Regions from separate parts of the Homo sapiens genome. Here region 1 is linked to region 2. A link means that fine-mapping ties the variant in region 2 to the expression of a gene that starts in the linked region. Tissue or cell type: whole blood. Region 2 holds a variant in brackets; the other region holds the start of a gene. All regions are shown on one strand. Distances are from middle to middle.

The links. PIP is the estimated chance that this variant, and not a neighbour inherited with it, causes the effect.
Region 1: it holds the start of SCGB3A1, and the variant in region 2 is the best candidate, but not a certain one, in a credible set for the expression of SCGB3A1 in whole blood (TwinsUK, PIP 0.54).

What each region holds. Positions count from the first base shown.
Region 1 is chr5:180,589,855-180,592,754 of GRCh38, reverse strand. SCGB3A1 (secretoglobin family 3A member 1) reads left to right here and starts at 1,256. Exons shown (of 3, transcript NM_052863.3): 1 at 1,256-1,344; 2 at 1,917-2,155; 3 at 2,501-2,650. The coding sequence starts at 1,293. The coding sequence ends at 2,524. RefSeq lists enhancers at 1,055-1,724, 1,725-2,394, 2,395-2,900.
Region 2 is chr5:180,508,236-180,511,135 of GRCh38, reverse strand. All of the region lies in intron 1 of CNOT6 (CCR4-NOT transcription complex subunit 6), which reads right to left. Among named protein-coding and RNA genes, the nearest start is that of CNOT6, 15 kb to the right of the region's middle. The variant C/T (reference allele first, on the strand shown) is at 1,399.

The DNA.
Region 1 (2,900 bases), 82 kb before region 2:
TGGGAGTCTGAGGTGGGAGGATTGCTTGAGCTCAGGAGTTCGAGACCAGCCTGGGCAACACGGCAAGACAGTGTCTTTACCACCACCAAAAAAGTAATTAACTTCAAACTGTTTTTAAAAAAGAAAACGTATTTCCCATTAAAATTACTTCCATGATGACCAACAAAACACAACCAAACTCCAGATTTATAATGCAAAAATCCCCCAAACAAAATAGTCAAGGAAAAGTGTAAGTGAACAGAAACAGTGTGAATGCGTGTGCCTGGCCACAACAGTTGGCAAAGGCACAAGTGTCTGCAGGTGCGGAGGAGGCCGCAGTAGCTCGGGGTGGCTGAGGGCTAAGACGTGCTGTCAGCCATAGGGAAGGAATTCCAGGACACTGCCTGAAGAGTCAGGTCCTCCCACCCGGGAGCCTGTTTCCCACGCGTGCCAGCTACACTTTACAAAAGAAAAGAGAGACTTTGCACCAACCTAGCTGAGAGCAGCCACGCAGCAAAACGTGAGTCACTCAGTGCTCAATGCCTGGGGTCAAAAAATAGAGGAAAGAAGAAGGACTAAAAGCAAATTAGTTTATGTATCATTTGCAAAAGTTTTCAAAATGTGCTTTGCTCTCCATCTGTCATACTTCTGCAGGTGACAGACGAGTGAGGACATTTAGAGAAACTCAGGAACAAACCAGGCCCATCCACTGGCGTCGAGGCTAGTTTCGAAGACAGAAAAACGCCCCACTTCTGTTTGCACTGTGGCTGCCTGTGGCCCGGCCGGGGAGGCGGCCGGGAGTGAGGCCTGATCGTCCCTGGCGCCTCCACCTCCCCAGGCGCAGAAGGCGCCCACGAGGACCCCCAGTGCCCGACGTTGCCACGGTCTGGGATCAGAGGCAGGGACCAGGGAGCCAGGAACTGCGCCGCCCCCGCCCCTGCCCTGGCGCGAGGGAAGCTCCCCTCACCCGGGCCCAGCCCTGCAGGGGGGCGCGTGGGGTCAGACCGCAAAGCGAAGGTGCGGGCCGGGGTGGGCCTCGCGGAGACAAAGGCCGGGCCTGCCTGCTCTCAGAGGGCCCCAGCGCCTGCCAAGAGGAAGTCCTCGAGGCCCGGGCAGGGAAGGGGGCACGGGCTTCCCAGGGCCCGCCGGCCGCAGCAGGAAGTTGGCCAGGGCACGGCCGTGAGCGGAGCGGGCAGGGCTTTCTCAGGAGCGCGGGCGAGGCCGGCGCTGGAGGGGCGAGGACCGGGTATAAGAAGCCTCGTGGCCTTGCCCGGGCAGCCGCAGGTTCCCCGCGCGCCCCGAGCCCCCGCGCCATGAAGCTCGCCGCCCTCCTGGGGCTCTGCGTGGCCCTGTCCTGCAGCTCCGGTGAGCGCCCCGGGCTCCTGGCGCGCACGGTGGGGCCTGAGGCCTCGGCGCCCGCTGCGCCCCCGCCGCTGCCTGCGCCGATCGTGGATCCCAGGTCCTTCCAGCCTCGCCCGGCGCCCAGAGGGCTCCGCCACCCCGGGGCCCCGCGCCTGCAGCCCGCGGCCTCCCCCTCTCAGGGCTGTCTCCAGCCTCGTGCCGGGATGGAGGCCGCCCCTGGCCTGGGGACACCCGTCTGCCCCCCGTCTGGAGACCGGCTCCTCATCCTGCAAGGCGCAGCGCGAGTGTCCCCTCCCTTGGGGGCCTGTCCCGGACCCTGCACAGAGTTCACCGGTCCTTCCGCCACCCTCAGGCCACTCCGGTGACCCTGCAGCGTCTCCTGGCGGGGCCGCCTCCCCAGACCCGCCTGTGTCCCGGGGGCTCGCACCTGGCAGGCCTCGGCGCAGGAGGGAGGGGCGGTCGGGGAGCCGGGCAGGGCGCGACGGTTCCTGGGCGCCTCCCGCGGGGGCGCGTCCTGGACCTGCCTTCTGGGGACCCCGGCGCGCAGGCGGTGACCCCTCCCTGTTCGCTTGCAGCTGCTGCTTTCTTAGTGGGCTCGGCCAAGCCTGTGGCCCAGCCTGTCGCTGCGCTGGAGTCGGCGGCGGAGGCCGGGGCCGGGACCCTGGCCAACCCCCTCGGCACCCTCAACCCGCTGAAGCTCCTGCTGAGCAGCCTGGGCATCCCCGTGAACCACCTCATAGAGGGCTCCCAGAAGTGTGTGGCTGAGCTGGGTCCCCAGGCCGTGGGGGCCGTGAAGGCCCTGAAGGCCCTGCTGGTAAAGTGGGCACCCCGGGTGCCCTTCCTGCGCGGGCATCCCTTCCCGGCCAGCCTCAAAACTGCACCAGAGGTGTCCCGGCCCTACGTCAGGGCTGTTTCCCGTCCTGCCCCTCCAAGCCCTGTCCCTGGGAGAAGCCCGGGTCTCCGGGTGGGAACTGGGTGGGGCGCATCCGAGCTGCAGGGGCGGGGAAGGCGGAGATGGCCCCGCGCGGGTGCGCGTCCCCCGGAGACGCCAGCGGAACCGCCCCGCTCCCGCTCCCCACAGAGCCGGCCGCTGCCGCGCCCCCGCCTGAGTTCTTGGTGGCAGGGCTGGGGGCACTCAAGCTCGGCTTCTGCTTTCCAGGGGGCCCTGACAGTGTTTGGCTGAGCCGAGACTGGAGCATCTACACCTGAGGACAAGACGCTGCCCACCCGCGAGGGCTGAAAACCCCGCCGCGGGGAGGACCGTCCATCCCCTTCCCCCGGCCCCTCTCAATAAACGTGGTTAAGAGCAGCTCGAGCCTGGTATTTTCTCATCCAAATGCTGATCCCTGTGGGGGACCGAGAGTGCCAAGTCCCAGATTTTGTGAGGGGTGCTGCGTGAGAGAGGGAGAGAGAGGCCGCGAGAGTCTGCAGGTGGCATAGAGCCAGCAGTGCAAGGTGACAGAGATGGGGCCAGTATCAGAGGTAAACCGGATTTGGAAACAAAACTGGCAGGTCTTTCTTCCTGTTGTGCTCTGTAACTGTTTATGAAGCATAAAAAT
Region 2 (2,900 bases):
ATTACAAACATATGCCAAAAAAAACCTGCCTGTCTGGACACGGTGGCTCACACCTGTAATCCCAACACTTTGGGAGGCCGAGGCAGGCAGATTACCTGAGGTCAGGAGTTCGAGACTAGCCTGGCCAACATGGCAAAACCCCATCTCTACTAAAAGTATAAAAATTAGCCGGGAATGGTGGCAGGTGCCTGTAGTCCCAGCTACTCAGAAGGCTGAGGCAAGAGAATAGCTTGAACCCGGGAGATGGAGATTGCAGTAAGCTGAGATGGCACCACTGCATTCCAGCCTGGGTGACGAGAGCGAGACTCTGTCGCAAAAAAAAAAGTAACTGTGCTATTTTCCATTATTACAAAACAAAAAGCCCCAAAAGACACTCACCCAAAAATCAGTCCCTCTTTGAATACAATCTAAATGACAATTCATTTATAGGTATATTAAAACTTTTAGATAATGAACATTTAAATGTCATATAAAGACAATAATTTAATAAATGCTATTTTTAAATACACATACTCTGGAATTTCAAATTACAATTATGACTGAGATGGCAGGCCTACCACATTCTTTAATATATTCGCCTGCTGTTTTGCCAAGTGTATGATTTGAATTCTACAAATTAAAAATATGTGCCTGTGCCTCTAGTATAAACAAACCCACTTAGTTCCATTAGACGATAGTCACAAGCCTTTCTCGCAGCCTCAATTCAGTTAAGGCACTTCTACTCTCACTTCAAACCCAAAATCTGCTGCCTCCCAATGTCATCACATTTGTTTGTTTCTCTTTCTAGTCAGGTTTCCTTCACATATTGGCCAGTTAAAAGTTTACGGATAGAAGTCCTGGCTACTCGGAAGGCTGAGGTAGGAGGATAGGCTGAGCCCAGGAGTTTGAGGCTATAGCGTGCTATCATTGCACCTGTGAATAGCCACTGCACTCCAGCCTGGGCAACACAGAAAAACACCATCTCTTAAAAAAAAAAAAAAAAAAAAAAAAAAAAAAAAAAAGGTTTACAGACGATAAACCTCATTTAGGAGCTGTCCTTAGTGGCAAATGTCTATCATTAGTCTTTCCTTGTAGGAAATCAAACAAAAAACAGCAACAACAAAAAGCTTCTGCAAAAGATAACTACTCTTGACTAACAGGCAAAACTTAAATCATAACTACACATTTTGAGACTACTATAAATTGCTGATGATACTATGGCAGGTATCTTGGTATCAGAACCCCGTGATAATCTCCCAAAGCAAACCATATGAATTGCATAGGAGGAATTTAACAAAGAGTAGCTAGTGAAAAAAAAAAAAAAAAAACACCAAGGTATCAAAAAGGTCTTACTAGGCCACGGTAGGAGGATCACTTCAGCCCAGGAGTTCCAGACTGGGCAGCATAGGGAGATCCTGT[C/T]TCTACGTAAAAATAAAAAATTAGGCTGGGTGTGGTGGCTCACGCCTGTAATCCCGGCACCTTGGGAGGCCGAGGCAAGTGGATCACCTGAGGTCAGGAGTTACACCAACATGAAGAAACCCCATCTCTACTAAATACAAAAAAAAAAAAAAAATTAGCCAGGTGTGGTGGCGCATGCCTGTAATCTCAACTACTTGAACCCGGAGGCAGAGGTTGCAATGAGACGAGAATCCGCCATTGCACTCTAGCCTGGGCAACAAGAGCAAAACTCCATCTCAAAAAGACAAAAGCAAAAACAAAAAAAATCAGGGCCGGGTGTAGTGGCTCACAACTGTAATCCCAGCACTTTGGGAAGCCAAGGCTGGCAGATCATTTGAGCCCAGGAGTTCAAGACCAGTAACATGGCAAAACCTGGTCTGTAGAAAAAAAAATACCAAAATTAACCAAGTGTGGTGGCATGCCCCTGTAGTTCCAGCTACTTGGGAGCCTGAGGCGGGAGGACGGCTTGAGCCCAGGAGGCGGAGGTTGCAGTGAGCCAAGATCGCACCACTGCATTCCAGTCTGGGTGACAGAACCAGACCTTGTCTCAAAATAAAAAAATAAAAATAAAATAAAATAGGCCGGGCGCTGTGGCTCACACCTGTAATCACAGTACTTTGGGAGGCCAATGCAGGTGGATCACGAGGTCAGGAGTTTGAGACCAGCCTGATCAATATGGTGAAACCTGTCTCTACTAAAAATACAAAAATTAGCTGAGCATGGTGGTACTTGCCTATAGTCTCAGCTACTCGGGAGGCTGAGGCAGGAGAACTGCTTGAACCCGGGAGGTGAGAGTTGCAGCGAGCCAGGATCACGCCACTGCACTCCAGCCTGGGCGAGAGTGAGACTCCCTCTCAAAAAAAAATAATAATAATAATAAAATTAATTAATTAATTAAAATAAGATACATTAGCTGGGCATGTTGGCACACACCTGCAGTCCCAGCTACCTGGGAGAATGAGGTGGAAGGATTGCTTGAGCTCTAGAGATTGAGGTTGCAGTGAGCCATGATGGCACCTGTGCTCTAGCCTGGGTGACCGTGAGACCTTGCCTTGAAAAAATAAAAACATAAAATAAAAAACTTTACTAGGCTGGGCGTGGTAGCTCACACCTGTAATCCCAGCACTTTGGGAGGCTGAGGCAGGTGGATTACAAGGTCAGGAGATCGAGACCATCCTGGCCAACACGGTGAAACCCCGTCTCTAATAAAAATACAAAAATTAGCTGGGCATGGTGGCGTGCGCCTGTAGTCCCAGCCACCCAGGAGGCTGAGGCAGGTGAATCGCTTGAGCCCAGGTAGCAGAAGTTGCAGTGAGCCAAGATTGCGTCACTGCACTCCAGCCTGGGTGAGAGAGCGAGACTCCGTCTCATACTAAAAAAACAAATTATCATCTTGGTCTTCAATCCTGCCCTTTCTCCTATGCTTACACCCAGATTTCCAAACCAAAAATATGAGCATATCC